2 separate regions of the Homo sapiens genome follow, and region 2 is linked to region 1. Evidence: fine-mapped expression QTL. Tissue or cell type: whole blood. Region 1 holds a variant in brackets; the other region holds the start of a gene. All regions are shown on one strand. Distances are from middle to middle.

Region 1 (8,185 bases):
GAAGCCTGCAGTCCTGGTGCCCTGGTGGAGCCAGCTCTGCTGGAACTAAGTACCCACAGTCCTGAACAGTTCCCACGTAGCATGGGGCCCCATCCAGTGGCAAACATCTGCAACTAGCAGGTGGAAGTTCCAAAGGAACAGCCAGAAAGTCTCACTGGGGAAAGGCCCCTGGGTTTCCACCTTTGCCCTGTGGTGACTTTCCTTCACATCCTTTGCAGTGCACCCTCTGTCATGTAGCCCAGGGAGGCATCACAAATATCAGGATGAAGAGTGCATGGTTTGCCTTGGAAGATTAGGTAGCTAGGAAGCATCTCCAAACTGCATTCTACATCCTCAGTATCAGATAGGTATGCCCTGCTTTTCAAGGGCAATGCTTTTAGGAAGCTTCTCCCCCAGCCTCACTGAATGCCAGTCCCCTGACTATCACCCCACTGGTTCATCCAGACCACTGTGCTCCTCCCTCACTTCTACAGATACCTCAGTCTTCACTGACTAACTGATATGGTTTGGCTCTATGTCCCCACCCAAATCTCATTTTGAATTGTAATCTGAATTGTAATTCCCATGTGTGGAGGGAGGGACTTGGTGGGAGGTGACTGGATTGTAGGGGTGGTCTCCCCCATGCTGTTCTCATGATAGTGAGGGAATTCTCATGAGATCTGACGGTTTATAAGTGGCAGTTTCCTCTGCACTCTCTCCTGCCACCAAGTACGACATGCCTTGCTTCCCCTTTGCCTTCTGCCATGATTGTAAGTTTCCTGTGGCCTCCCAGCCATGTGGAACTGTGAGTTAATTAAACCTCTTTTGTTTATAAATTACCCAGCCCCACATAGTTCTTCATAGCAGTGTGAAAACAGATGAATATATCAACCCATCATTAACTGGCCAACCTTATCACTTCCACTGCCCAGTCAGCCCATCTGCAGACTTGACCTCCCAGCCTGCTTTGAACCTTTGAGATGACCGACATGGACACTACTATTCCCTGGGTCTCATCTCCTGGTCCCCCCAGGACCCAGGGTTAGCCTGGAAGACTCAAGCTCTGGGCTAGGTTTCCTCTGGTCTTGGAACTCCCATTTGACTGGCTCATTGCAGTGTGGAGTGGACAGCCCCCTGCAAAAGGCAGTCCCCACTAACCCACCTATGTTTATGGTAAACAGCCCTACCCCACTTTGAACCTTTCCTTTAGCCCAGAAGCCACCTCTCAGTCACATTTGGAGCTCCTAAAGGGCAGCAGCAAAGAGTCAGTCTTCTAGGATACCTGTCTGCACCATCATACTTATCACTACTTCAGCAATTGTCTGTTTTCTAGTAGCTAGGACCTTGACCAACTGGGCAGCCAAGTCTGCCTTTAACTCTGATGAAATCAATATGGTTACCATGTCCTCTTTCTAGCCTCCCCCTGGCAGGATCCCCCAATGTATTTGATAGCATTTACCCTTTGAGAAACGTAAAATCTCAATACAAGCTCTAAACTGAGCCTTTACTGCAGCCCAGACACCCAATGGGAGCATAATGCCATCAGATTTTGCGTACGTGTTACCTCCATATCCATCTTTGATATCTCTGCTAGCACCCACTCAGCCTTGGGTGGCACCTCGGGTCCTTTTCCCATTTGCACAGCCACTACTTCTAGCTCTGGAGCCATCACTGGATGCTCAGCATCAGGCACAGTTCACCTTTTGCTAACCCCTCTCTCGACCCATTTCCATTCATGGACTCTGGGGCTTCTTTGGATAATGACAGCTCTAGGACCAGTGTGTCTGCCCCAGACCCAGCTCCACATCTGAAGCACTCAGCTTTAGAACAGGGCCTAGAGGGGCATGCAGCACCTTAGTTTATGTTGGGGAGGCTTACACATGAGCACCGGGGTTCCTGCAAGCCTACAGCACCTCTGGTACAGTTGGAGAGGGCAGTACTACTGAAAGCAAAAACTCCTGGGAAACACTTTCCTCCCTGCCTACAGTCAGAGCAGCTGGGGCCTGTCCTGCCAAAGCACACCTCTTAGAACATCACTGAGAAGAAACATGTTCCAGAAGGCACCTCTGTTCCTTCTTGTGTTCATAACACCTGGAAACCATCTGGCCAAAGCACGTCTGTTGTGGTTGGAGGAGCCCGCACATACCAGTGCTTGGGACACTTCTGTCTTGCAGACAGACCACCTGGAATGCAGCTGGCCAGAGCACATCTGCATCCCTCAAAGGGAAGGAGAAAGCAGCACATCTATGCTTGGAGGCCTTTATGTTTCCACCACAAGCAGAGCACCCTGTTGCACCTTTCCAAGCACCTATGTTGCAGTAGCAGGGGACAACACACTACCTGTGACTGCAAGTCTTCTCTTCTTGTGTCTGGTCAGAGCGCTTGGGGCCCATATGGCCTGGGCAAACCTGTTACTGCTGGAGAAGCCTGCACAACAGAGAAGAAACATGTGCCCCAAGATACTTCTGTTCATGACTTCTGTCAAACGCCTTTGGACCACTCAGCTTGAGCACATCTGTTTCTGTTGGAGGGGCTGGTGCCATATCTGTGACTGAAGAAACTACTGTTTATGAATACAATCAGAGCATGTGAGGGCCATAAGTCCAGAGTATAGGCAGTGCAATGCCTGCAATGGGAGGAGATGGCACCATACCTGTAATGGGAGGAGATGGCACCATATATGGGTTTGTTTGGGGGGGACACTTCTGTTCATGAACACAGCCAGAACACCTGGGGTCCACAAGTCCTGAATTCAGGTGTACAATGGGAGGAAACAGCACCCCACCTGTGCCTGCAGAAACTTCTGTCCATGAATAGTCAGAGAGCCTGAGGTCCACAAGTCCAGATTAAAGATGGTGCAATGGCAGGACACAGTCCCACACCTATGCTTACTCGCGAATACAGCCAGAGTGCCTGGGTTCCACAAGTGAGGATTCAGATGGCAAGTAGAGGGTACAGTACCATTCAAGTGTTTGGGTACCCTTCTCACCATCATTCAGAGCAACTGGGACACTGGTGGCTGGAGCACACTTGTTGCAGTCAGATGGGAGAACATGTTGAAGAAGATACTTCCATTCTCACCTTCAATCAGAACACCAGGGGCCTAAGCCAGGGTACCTTCCCTCTTTCATTTTGGAGAAAACAACATCACTGAGAAAATATCTGTGCTTCAGGACCTTTTCCACCTGCTTTTGATCAGGTCAAATGTGCTTCTGTGGTGGGCACGGCAAGCACAGCCTCGTCTTTGGGGCACCCTCGGCACCTGCACAGGGATTCTTTGGGGACAGAAGCATGCAGCATCACCCTATTTGTTTTCTTCTCATGTAAGACTTAGGGTCCTCAGTGACCAAAAGCAAAAGCTTCCTCTAGAAATGGCAGGTGACCACTGTTCCCCATGATTTGATCTTGTTCTGCTGGGAGCAGTTTCTGCTCCTTCTAGTTACGGCAAACAAGCTTCACCTGCCCTTTGTCCTTCTAGCACAAACTGGAAGCCCAAGACCCTGGGGTGTTTGTGAATGTGTCCAAGGACTTGGGTTCAGATGAGCCAAGTCAGAAGTCGACACACTAGCCTAAGATGTTCACCTGTGGAGAGAAGAGAGAGATGGGTGAGTATCAGCCGTGCAACACTACACTCTAGTTTCAGTGTTATCCTGGAAGACCTAAGCTTTGGGGGGGTTTCCTCCTGTCTTGGAACTGTCAGGACACCCACTGCTATCTATGTCTGCCATGTTTCCTCTGCTCATGTGTTTTTGCTCTAACTCAATGATGGAGAAAATACTGACTTGTATAAGCCATGATTGTTGAGCCAGGCTTAACTGTGCAAAGTTTCTGTGGCCCAGGGCCCAGGATCTAGAACATGGAGTTTAAATGTCTTTTTTGCTTGTTTAATTTAGTTGTATGCCAGTAATTCACACACATTCACAATTTTTTTTTTGGCTGCAGGGGGTTGTGGGGGAGAGATGGGGATCTCATCATGTTGCCCAGCCTGGTCTCAAACTTGGCTCAAGTGGTCCTCCCGCCTTGGCCTCCCAAAGAGTTGGGATAACAGGTGTGAGCCACCACGTCCAGCAACATTCACACTTTCACCTATGGATGATTGGCTTGGCAATCAGGCTTTTGGGCCTGGAGGAAAAAAGGAAGAAAGAACTCACGCATGACTGCTCCGTAATTTAAAAAAAATTTAAGTCTGTTAGGATGTAATAGATTACATAGATATTGGTATCATGTTGCTTTGACACATTACAAATGATTATCTTTTAAGGTAAATAGCAGGATAGGTTCTATTTGGAAAAATAACTGGTCTATCTCGAGTCCTAACCACAAAAATATCGTCACAAGATTTATAATTTCACACAGACTTGGCTGACCTTGGAGTTGTACTGTGCTGAAAATACAATCTTTTTAAAGTATTTTACAACCCATGAAGGTATCTTAAGATGGTGGAAAGAAAAATAAAGTACAAGCATTTCCTTCAGCTGCTTACAGATTACAGTTGTCCCTTGAACAATGCGTGGGGGTAAGGGGTGCTGCTTCCCC[C/G]ACGCAGTCCAAAATGTCTGCATGACTTGTGACTTCCCCAAAACTTAACCACTAGTAGCCTACTGTTGACTGGAGGCCTCACTGATAACATGAACAGTTAACACATTCTGTATGTTATATGTATTATATACAGCATACTTACAATAAGCTAGAGAAAAGAAAATGGATGAGTGGATCATCATAAAGGTTTCATCCTTGTCATTTTCATGTTGAGTAGGCTGAGGAGGAGGAGGAGGATGAAAAGGAGGGGTTGGTCTTGCTGTCTCAGGAGAGGCCGCAGTGGAAGAAAATCCACATGTAAGTGGATCTGTGCAGTTCAGACCTGTGTTGTTCAAGAGTCAATGTATTATATTAAACAGTGCTAGGTCTTGGTGATATAGAATTCAAAGATTTATCTCTTGCAGCCCAGCAATTTACAGTATAGCAGAGAGAGACAGATAGATAAACCAAATATTACACCTGGAAAGATAGTGGTGGCGATACGGGAGTAGGTAAGAAGGACATAAAACTAGGTGTGAGAGAGATGGAAAAAATAAAAAATAATAAAAAAAAGAAGAAGGAAGAAGTGTCCAGGCAGAGAAAGGCTATTTGGGGGTCAAAGAAATAGCATGCTAAAAGTCAGGGAAGACTAATCTGTGTAACAAACCTGCACATGTATCCTGGAACTTTAAATTCAATTAAATTAAATTAAAAGTCAAGGAAGAAAGAGATCATGACCCTGTGGGACACCAGGCAAGTAATCAAATGTGGTTGGAGAGTGAAACCCAAGCTGGGAGATGTGGCTGCTGTGTTCAGCAAGTGCAGATCATGGACAAACAGACATACCATCAGGGGGCATTTGTCCATTATCCACAAAGTATGAGGAATCGTGAAAGGATAAGCAAAGAAGTTACATGATATATGTAGATTTTAGAAACACTCTATGCCTCCCTGAAAGGAAGAATTAAATAGATGCCAGAATAGAAGCAGATAGGCTTAGGAAATTTTTTTGCAGTGATCCAATGCAAAAATGAGCCACTGAGCTCCCAGTCTAGAGGAACTGACAGTGGGATGGTTGAAGAGGTAAGGGAAGAGGCAAGGGGAAGTAGGCGATGCCAACAAGACCAGGGCTATTTTAGCCATCTGGTTTAGATAAACGGACATGAGTTGTTTTGGAAAACATACATTAAGTTAACTTTCTAATAGTCTGACATGGCTATGGAAGACGTAGGTGATATTCATAAAGCCATTCATTTACCCATTTAGTCATCAGTTGGGCATATATATTATTATTTGAGACAAAATGAGTAGTCTAAGGAATACTTTAGGTAATAGCATCAATTTTTTAAAAACAAGGATAAAAATCTTATGAAACCTAATTCTAGTTGGAGAAAATAAAATAAACAACAAATGTAATAAATTAGTAAATTATTTGATAGGTTCCAGTAACAACTGCAGGGAGACGAAGGGCAGCCAACGTAGGATTGAGTTTAGGGCTAGAGAGAAGTGTGAGTTTCTATTTAAATAGACTGGAAATGGTAAACCTCATTGGGAAGGTGGAATCTGAGCAAAGTCTAGAAGGCAACAATTAAGCAAACCACACAGTTATCTGAGGGAAAGGCATTCCAATTAGTTGGACTAGCCACTGTAAAGGCTCAGAGGAAGGATGTCTCTTGCCCGCAGGGAGCAGTGAGCAACTCAATAGGGGACCAGGATGAAGTTGGCACTTTGCAGAGTGGGAAGAAGGGGGAATAGAGATGGAGAGGGATGAAGAGACTAAGTGGGGCCTTGGAGGATGTGATAAGAACATTGCCTTTTACTCACAGATGGAAATCATGGAGGGTTTGGAGCAAAGGATGACGTGATCTGACTGAGGCTTAATAGGATCATTCTGGTTTCTGGGGATGAGAGACCATTTAGGTGGCTATGGTCATAATCATGAAAGCTTGGACACAGTGGTGGTGGTGCAGGTGATGAGAAGTAAAATTTGTAGATATTTTGAAGCATTTTCTGTTGGCCTGAATGGCAGGAGTATGTGTGGAAAAGGAAGAAGGAATCCATAGACTTGCTATTTGAGTTTAGAAAAGGTTTTGGCCTCATCAAGGTATACTCGGTCACTGGGCGTGTGAAAAAAGATGGCCGAGGGAGAATTCCTAGAAGGGGAAAATAGGGAGGGAGGACATGGGAGGATAACAGACTCCTAAATACATGTGGTTGAGTTCATTGGTTGTGCATATGGAAATTACCCCTACCTCAAACCATCACACAAATGATGAATTTAAGATATCAGATAACAAAAAACATGAAAAAAACTAAATCCAGGTACATCATAATCAAACTGCTTAGTCTCTAGGAGAAAATCAAAAGACATCCCAAGAAAAAGCACACATTATGTGTTCCAGTAGAACACATGCATTGTTCTAATGAGAAACAAAGAAAAAGTAAGATGTAGCTACAGACGAATGAACAAAACTTGAATATATTATTTTCAAAAGTTCCCCCGAAACAGAATATGGCACACCTCTCATTGGAAATACACAAGCTAGAACTCAATGAGTTAGCATTTTTTAAAACTCGAAAGAAAAAAATACTGTGAACCTATACCCTGTGAACCTGCCAGAATGTGGAGACACAGGTGCTAAAACTACACCCAGTGAAACTCTTTTAAAAGTGAAGGTACACACACACACACACACAACTCAACCTTTTTATACACGTAAATGCTTATCGCTAGCATACCTTTCATTAAAAAAAAAAAACTAAAGGAAGTCCGGGCAAGATAAAAATAGTGCAAGTTAGAAATCTGGATCTACACAAGCGAATGAGTAGCAATGGAAAAAGTAAATATAAAAATATATGCATATACATACATATGTGTTTGTATGGGGGTGTTTGTGTGTGCATGTCAAACACTTTCTGTAAAAGTAAAATGTATGGCACAATGGCACAAATGATAAGAGAGAAATGGAAGTGTACTGTTCTTATTGTATAGTTCTTATACTATATGTGAAACAATATAATATTACTTGGAGGTAGACTATATATGTTACTCTATATAGTTTATACTATAGTATGTAGTATATCCTATATAATATAAAGAATCACTTTAAAAACACTTAAGAATTATATTTAGTAGGTAAACAAAAGAGATAAAATGGAATCATGAAAATAATCCAAAAGAAGGTATACAAAGAGGAAAAAGAAACAAAGACCAGATGGAACAAACAGGAAGCAACAGCAAAATTGTCAGTGTAAACACAACGACATCTAACCATATTAAATTTAATTGTCTAAATGTATGATTTTAAAGGCAGAGATTGTTAGATTGGATTAAAAATACAAAACTATATGCTATGTATAAAAAAAACACTTGAGGCTGGGAGCAGTGGCTCATGCCTGTAATCCCAGCACTTTGGGAGGCCGAGGCGGGCGGATCATGAGGCCAGGAGATAGAGACCATCCTGGCTAACACGGTGAAACCCCGTCTCTACTAAAAATACAAAAAGTTAGCTGGGCATGGTGGTGGGTGACTGTAGTCCCAGCTACTTGGGAGGCTGAGGCAGCAGAATGGCGTGAACCTGGGAGGCGGAGCTTGCATGAGCCGAGATCGCACCACTGCTCTCCAACCTGGGCGACAGAGCAAGACTCCGTCTCAAAACAAAAGCAAAAACAAAACAAAACAAAACAAAAC
Region 2 (8,185 bases), 15 kb after region 1:
GCAAAACACAGCAAATCAAAATTTGTGATAGACAGCTAAAGTGTGGCAGCTTTAAGCGTTTATGTTTAAAACAGAAACATTTTAAGAAACAATGATTTAGGTTTCTACCCTGAGTAGAAGAATCAAGGAATAAATTAAATATAAAATGAATGGAAAAGAAGAAATAATAAAAATAGACACGGAAATAGAAATGATAGAGACACATTAATTCTATTAATTTCTATTTATAGACATTTCTATATATAATATAGAAATTATAAAGTGTAATAAAATGGAGAAACCTCTATCAAGATTGAAGAAGAAATAACAAAGAGAAAACTCAAATTACCAATATTAGGAATAAAAAGGGAAGGGCATGAGTCAGATCTGAAAGACATTAAAAGGGTAATGGGGAATTATAAACATCCTCTAAGAAAAAATATGCAGTTCCAGACGGTTTTTCAGGTGAATTCTATCAAATGTGTAAGAACAATATTTTACCTGTGTTACACAAACTCTTTCAGAAAGTGGAGAAAGGGGCAACTTTTCGTAACTCATTCTATAAGGCCAGTATTACTCTAATATCAAAACCTAACAAGAAGAGAAAATTACAGATTAATATCGCTCATAACATAGACACAAAAGTCTTTGGCAACACTTTAGGAAAACCAAATATAAAAAGATGATCTTTTGTGACTAAGTAAGTTTTTCCCCAGGAAGGCAAAGATTCATTTAACACCTAAAAATCAATCAATGTAATTCATCATATTAAGAGAATAAAAGAGAAATGTCCTATGGTGATCTCAATAGCTGTGGGTCTCACACCACTTACCAAAAACATTCTAAGTAAAGCAGGAATTCGAGAGAATTCATTTCTGTGATAAAGCATATCTACAAAAAATCTTCAGTTAATACCATACTGAATACTCTTAACCTATGATTAGGAACTGGGAAAGAATATCCATTGTCTCTTCTTGTATTTGATAGTTTCCTGGATGTTGCAGCAAATGTAGAAGATAAGAAAAATTAATAAAAGGCATAGAGATTAAAAGAGAAGAAAGAAAAGTGCCTTTAAGCACAGAAAACGTTTGTCTATGTAGAACATCTGAAAGAGGGCTGGGCACAGTGGTTCACACTTGTAATCACAGCACTTTGGCAGGCCGAGGTGGGCAGATCACCTGAGGTCAGGAGTTCAAGACCAGCCTGGCCAATATGGTGAAACCTGGTCTCTACTAAAAAAACAAAAATTAGCTGGGCATGGTGGCACATGCCTATAATCCCAGCTACTCAGGAGGCTGAGGCAAGAGAATCGCTTGAACCCAGGAGGCAGAGGATGCAGGGAGCTGAGATTGCACCACTGTACTCCAGCCTAGGGGGGATACAGCAAGACTAAAAAAAAAAAAACACTAAAGAATCTACAAAGAAACTACAAAATGTAAATAGAAAATGAGCAAGGTTTCAATACAAAAGTAAATATATCAAAAGCAGTTGTTTTGTCCATATACTACTATATGCCAATATATGTATATAGTACGTGAGTACACACACACACACACACACACACACACACACACACACACACACACCCCATCATCATCATCATTTTCAGGGGCTAGGGAAGTTGATATTGGTCAATTATCAATCTCACCCAGGGCCCTGACAGCTGGCCTATGGAATTATTGCAAGTGATATTGGTGCCCTTGGGGCATAAAGCTTTTAAGCTAGCATGGATCTTGTATCTACCTGATGTACATCTTATGTCCTCGTTCCTGGGAGAAGACAGCTCACAGACAGCTGAGTTTTTGGCTGCACATCCTACTTAGAAGAGAAATGCCTGATTGTGCCATGCTGACAAGTGTTGGTCCTGGCAAATACAGAAGGAAATAAAGAGAAATAAAAAGCATGTAGATTACAACAGAAGGAAAACTAGCTTTATTCACAGAAACATGATTCCTAGAAACATTATTGTGTATGTAGAAAATCCTATGGAATCTGCAAAGAAACTACCTGAAATCAAAAGCGATTTCAGTGAGGTTCAATATACAAACTCAATATGTATGCATATATACATTTATGTACATACACAGTCATGCACCTCATAACAAGGTTTTGGTCAACAATGAACTGCATATACGACAGTGTTCCCATAAGATAATATGACATTGTTACTGTTTCTTTTCTGTGTTTAGATATATTTAGATACACAAAGACTTAACGTTGTGTTACAATTGCCTCAAATTCAGTATATGCCGTACAGGTTTGTAGCTACAGGCTATACCATATGGCCTAGGAGTATAGTCAATTATACCATCTAGGTTTGTGTAGGTACAGTCTATGATGTTTGCACAATGACGAAAATCACCTAATGATGCATTTCTCAGAAGGTATTCCCATTGTTAAAGCGACACTGGACTGTATTATATGTATTACCTATATTCTACCAATGAACTATCAAAAATTAAAATTTAAAAGATTCCATTTACAATAGCATTTACAAACCCCATAGAATACTTAGAAATAAATTAGCAAAAGCTGTGGAAGATCTATGCACAGACAACTGCAAAACAGTTGCAAATTTTCTCTTAAAAAGCCAGATAGTATGAGGTTGGTACAAAAGTAATTGCGGTTTGAAAGTAATGGCAAAAACCACAATTACTTTTGCACCAGCCTAATAAGTAGCATAGCCTTTGTGGGTCACGTTGTCTGTGACACAGACTCTTTGTGTTTCTGTGTATTCTGCTGCAACTCTTTAAAATTGTTAATAGGATCCTTCACTCACTGGCCTTACATGTAGGCTACAGGCTAAATTTGTTGGCCCATAGGCTGCAGTGCTGACCCTTGCTGCGAAATATTTCTAGGAGAAAATACTCAAGACCTAAATCTATGGAGATATATATCATCCCTGTGGCCTGGAAAAGTTAATATTGGCAAGTTGTCCATCTTGGCCAGGACCCTGAAAGATAGTCTATGTTATTGTAAGAAAGATTGGTGTCCTTGGGGGCATGGGCTTTTAAGCCAGGGTGGAATCTGCAGAAGTCTGAGGTGCCATTTCCTGTCCCTATACCTGGGAGAAAATAGCTCTCAGACAGCTGTGTGGCTTTCTGCAAAGCTCAATTAGAAGAGAAATTATCAGGCGTGGTGGCGCATGCCTGCAGTCTCAGCTACTTGGGAAGCTGAGGTGGGAGGATCTCTTGAGCCCAGGAGTTCGAGGTTGCAGTGAGCTGTGACTCCAGCCTGTGTGACAGAGTGATACGCTGTCTGGAGAAATTCATCATGGAGATATGCTGATAATTGGTGGTCCCTGCCTACATCCTCCCAGGAGACTGAGCCAGACCCGGTGTGGCCAATGGTCCACTTATAAATTGAACCATGTTAGACCTCCTAACAGTGCAAGTACTCATTACAGCTCTGACATGGTGCTAAGCACCCCAAGTATTATAAACAAGTGTAATCCATTATGCACACACGGTGAGGCTACACCAAAGTCTGGTGGTTAAATGCATGATCTGTGGAATCAGACAGCATGGGTTCAAACCCTGGCTGGGGTGAGATGGGGAACTTTCTAAGGCTTAAATGCTGTTTTACCAAATATTTTAAAAGAAGTGAAAATACACTGCCTGTTAGAAAGGGAAGTTTTGGGGTGAAGCATGTGGGCAGTTTAGAATACCTGGTGTCCACCTCAGAAACCATCACAGCCCAGATGTTATAGGTTCAGGCCTTTCCAGGGCGGGCACATAGAATGTCCTCGCCTCCAAGGTTTGGAGAGCTGCGCTATAAAGGTTCTTGCAGGCGGTGTCCTGAGCCCAGAGCTGCCTGCAGGCGGGCAGGAGTTGTGGGGGTGTTGGCATGATCTGGTGTCCTCTGTGGCGGCTGCCTGAAAAGAAGAGGCCGAGGGTTCTTTGTCCTATGTCTCTCCGAATCTTAATACCTGCCCTGCAGCAGACTCCCTGGCTGCCAGGGCACACCGGTCACCCCGGTAGACGGTGCCGCCCCGCCCTCGCCAACCCCTTATCCCAACTCCCATTTCCAGCCTTCCAGGAAGCCCGATCCCCACCCCCGCACCATGTGAGCTGCTCCTCTACTCCGCGTAGGGGAGGCTCTGCCTCCGGTGACCCCGAGGGAAAGAGCTAGAGCACCCACAGGTGCTGACTGCTGCGGCGCTGAGGACGCTGCACACCCGTTCACCGGCTGACCCAGTGCTGCTGACAACCAGCGTCCGCGGCCCCCAACCGTCGAACAGAGCGCGTGGGACCATCTGGTGCCAAACGCCTGCAACGGAGTGCAGAAGGTCACGAGGCGCTAGAGACCGGTTGGGGGCAGGCGGTTGGGCCTTGACGCTCTTTGCTGGGCGTCGTTTTTTCTTCTCGCCCCCTTCGCTCCTGTGCGCTTAGTGCACAAGCCCTGGGCTCACACACCCTTTCTCTGTCACGTGTTCCAACAGCATCTCACCTGCATCGGGCTGAACAGGAGACCTCAATTTTCTCCTCTACTCCAAGGATTCGCCGGCTCACAATTGCTCTTCATATCTTCAGCAAGCTTTGTCTGTGCCCTGCCCCTCTGTCCCCCATTGCCTACCATACCCGCTCCCACCAAGCCTGCATCACCTCGCTGTCTCTGTGCCTCTCCCCGGCCCCCTTCCAGGCCTTTCTCCCACAATTTCTGGTCTTTGCTCCTGGGTGTTCCGTCGACCCTAAGAGGCGGTGTCTGATCTGGCAGGCTCAATGCCTTTCTCTGGCGCTGTCTGCACCTCCAATATATTCAGTGACTCAGGAAGGATCCATCCTGCAGGGCCCAGATAGACTCTCCTGTTTGCCACCTGAGCAGAAAGGCACCTCTGTGAGGTCTTTGCCACCCAGTCACCCTACCAGACCCAATCAGCACGTGGGAGACGTGGATGACAGGAGGACAGAGATGGAGAGGGACCAAAAGACTACATGGGGCCTTGAAGGATGTCATAAGAACGTTGCCTTTTACTGAGAGATGGGAACCATGGAGGGTTTCAAACTGCTGAGACTGGCATGATATGACTTAGGGCTTTTTTGTTTGTTTGTTTGTTTGTTTTTTCTTTTTTGTGACGGAGTCTCAGAGTCTTCCTCTGTCATCCAGGCTGGAGTGCAGTGGTGTGATCTTGGTTCACTAGAACCTCTGTCTCCCGGGTTCAAGACATTCTCCTGCCTCAGCCTCCCGAGTAGCTGGGATTACAGGCACCCACCACCACGCCCGGCTAATTTTTGTCTTTTTAGATGTTTTATCTCAGAGAAAGAGCTTCCATGTTCTCTAACTCTTGTAAACAGGTATTCTTCAAGAAACTTTACAATATAACATTCATACACAGAAGTGTACAAATCATCTGTCTATTCCTCAATACATTTTTGCAGAATGAACAAACCTATGTAATCTAGATCAAGAAGCAAAACACAGGCACCTCAGAATCAACCTCATGCTCATTCCTAGTCACTATGCCCCTCCCAAATTTTTAACATTATAGATTAGTTTTGCCTATTTAAAAACTTTATATAAATGGAACCCTACCATGTGTCCTGTTTGTGGCTGTGTCTTTTCATTCAACACTTCATAAAATTCATCCATGTTGTTGCTTTTAGCAGCACTTTATTCTTTTATATTGCTGTGTGATGTTCCATTGAACAAATATAATTTACCCATTCTATTATTGATGGATGTTTGGCTATTAGAAATAATAATGCTACTGTGGCTAGGTGTAGTGGCTCATGCCTGTAATCCTAGCAGTTTGGGAGACTGAGGAGGGAGGATTGCTTGAGACCAAGAGTTCAAGACCAACCTGGCCAACATAGTGAGACCCCCATCTCTCTTTAAAAAAAAAAAAGAAAGAAATAATGCTGCTGTGAACATTCATGTGTATGTTTTCGACTACTTCTGAGGTAGGACGCAGGACTCGACTCCAGAGCCGGGGCTTGGACACTGGAGCAAATTGAGGACTAGCTAAAACAGGGTCAGGGTGGAAGCAGCTTTCCATCAGACACACCCACCAGTGTGCTATGTCAGTTTACATTTGTCATGGCAACATGCAGGAATTACTGCTCCTTTCCATGGCAATGACCCAATGACCCAGAAGTTACTACCCTTTTCCTAGAAATTTCAGCATAAACCACCCCTTAATCTGCATGCAATTAAAAGTAGATGTAAATATGACTGCAGAACTGCCCTGAGCTGCTGCTCTCTGCGCCCTGCCGATAGAGTAACCGTGCTCTGCAGGAGCAGTCACAGAGCTGTAACACTGCCTCTTCAATAGAGCTGTCTTCTTCCACCACCAGCTCACCCTTGAATCCTTTGCTGGGTGAAGCAAAGAACCCTCCCAAGCTAAGCCCCAATTTGGGCTTGCCTGCCCAGCATCACTTCCAATATCATGGAAATTTTCAGTGATGCCTACTATGAGGTTTATTGCTTAACTTTTCACATTTAGCTCTGGAATTCTCCTGTCGATTTGCATGTCTTTTGTAGATTTATTTCATGTTTATTGATGCTACTATAAATCCTCTGAAGGGATTTACCTTTGGATGTAGAAGGCAGCTAGGATGGGAAAGCACACTTTATTCTGAGATTAATGTAAGTCAGAGCCATGCTTCACTCTTTTTGAAGGCTGGCTCTCTCCTGTTATCCTTATTTCTGGGATACTGGCTTTCAGACGTTTTACATGAAAACCTGAGTATTTTTTGGGGACCCTCTTCATTGGCAGGTCCTGACTCTGAATTTTTTTCTCAGCAGCCGCTGAAATTGCTGAATTTTACCTCCAAAACTTGATTTGAAAAAAACGAAGCAAAGGTAGAAAGAATATCATTCTAAAATCATTGTTTTATAAACAGATTTTGCTACGTAGATGCAATTGGCCATAATAATGGCAGAGAAGGCCAGATTTTCTTTCTAACTGTTATAACAGTTTTTAAACATGAAAAAGGTTCATTTAGAAAACAATGTTAAGGTAGGGGCACGGCAGAGAATGGGAAGATGGTCAGCCGGGAGGAGCAGTGCAAGAAGAGAGCAAAGACACAAGCACTCTTGTGTGCAGAAAAGGCATGGTGAACATAGGGGTAAAAATCACTAGCCCTTCTCGGAGCAATTCCAACATTATCTGAAGGAAAGTCCATGGACCATGAGAACCCCCCACCTTCTGAGACACATATATCTGGACTGTGGGACTTTGACCCATGTTGGATCAGCCAGATCCCCTCTCCCTGGAGCAGTTTGTCGGCACAGGAAGAGAACAGCTCAGCCCTTGGAGAGAGAGTCACTTATGGGTAGGATGCCCTGGCTTCCTATGGCTGGCAAGTGTGAAAGTTGATTATATAAATTGAGCCATTCTTGTTATACCCAACTAAAACAGAATTGGAAGGCCAGGAGGAGAAAACACACTCAGGGCACGCCAAGAATGTAATTCTTTGCAAGCCTAGCTGCTGAAATTGCCTGCTGTAACCCAAAAACGGTTTTATGTAGTAGCTTCTGAAACAACCTGCCGGACTCTATGATTACTTTTACCCACTGCTATCACTTACCAATCAGAACTTGCCAGCTCCCCAAAACTTTACTAGTGCCAATGAGTTGTCTTTGCAAAATAAATTGTCTTTGCTCTTTTAACGAAACCTCTTTCTATTTGTTCTTCTAAAAGGCTGCCCAGTTGTGTGCCCTGAATTGCAATTTTCACTTCCCAAATAAAACAGTTTATATTTATAGAGATTTATCTCTGTATTTTGATTTCGACCCAACGCCCTGATTTGCTCACTGCTGTGATCCAGTTGTACCTCCAGGTTCAGTCAATCCTCTCCAATTCTTCAAGGATTGTCCCAAGATAGGTTAGTTTTGGCTGTCCTAGCTTTTCATATAAATAGGGACATGCAGTATGCATTCCTGTGCAAGGATTCTTTTCACTTAGCAGAATGCTGTGCTTTTGTACTTTTGTTGTCTGTCATCAGGGGTTATTTTCTTTGATAGCTGAGTAATATGAATACTTCATAATTTCTTTTTCTATTCTCATGTGGATTGGTATCAGGGATATTTCCATATTATGCTTATTATGAATAAGGCTTTTATGAATTTTGCCTACTATGCAAGGCTTTTTGTGTCATGCAAGCCTTTTTGTGTACATATGTTTTCATTTCTCTCAAGGAAATAATTCAGAATGGAAGCACTGAGTAAGAATAAGTATATATTTAGTTTTATAGTAAGTTTTATG

What was found. PIP is the estimated chance that this variant, and not a neighbour inherited with it, causes the effect.
Region 2: LINC01801 starts here. The variant in region 1 is fine-mapped to the expression of LINC01801 in whole blood (TOPMed, PIP above 0.99).

The regions. Positions count from the first base shown.
Region 1 is chr19:34,813,930-34,822,114 of GRCh38, forward strand. It overlaps LINC01801 (long intergenic non-protein coding RNA 1801), which reads right to left. Exons shown (of 6, transcript NR_033982.1): 5 at 4,658-4,837; 6 at 2,225-3,561. Among named protein-coding and RNA genes, the nearest start is that of LINC01801, 15 kb to the right of the region's middle. The variant C/G (reference allele first, on the strand shown) is at 4,516.
Region 2 is chr19:34,828,684-34,836,868 of GRCh38, forward strand. It overlaps LINC01801 (long intergenic non-protein coding RNA 1801), which reads right to left and starts at 4,186. Exons shown (of 6, transcript NR_033982.1): 1 at 4,042-4,186; 2 at 3,647-3,853; 3 at 1,723-1,843; 4 at 481-570.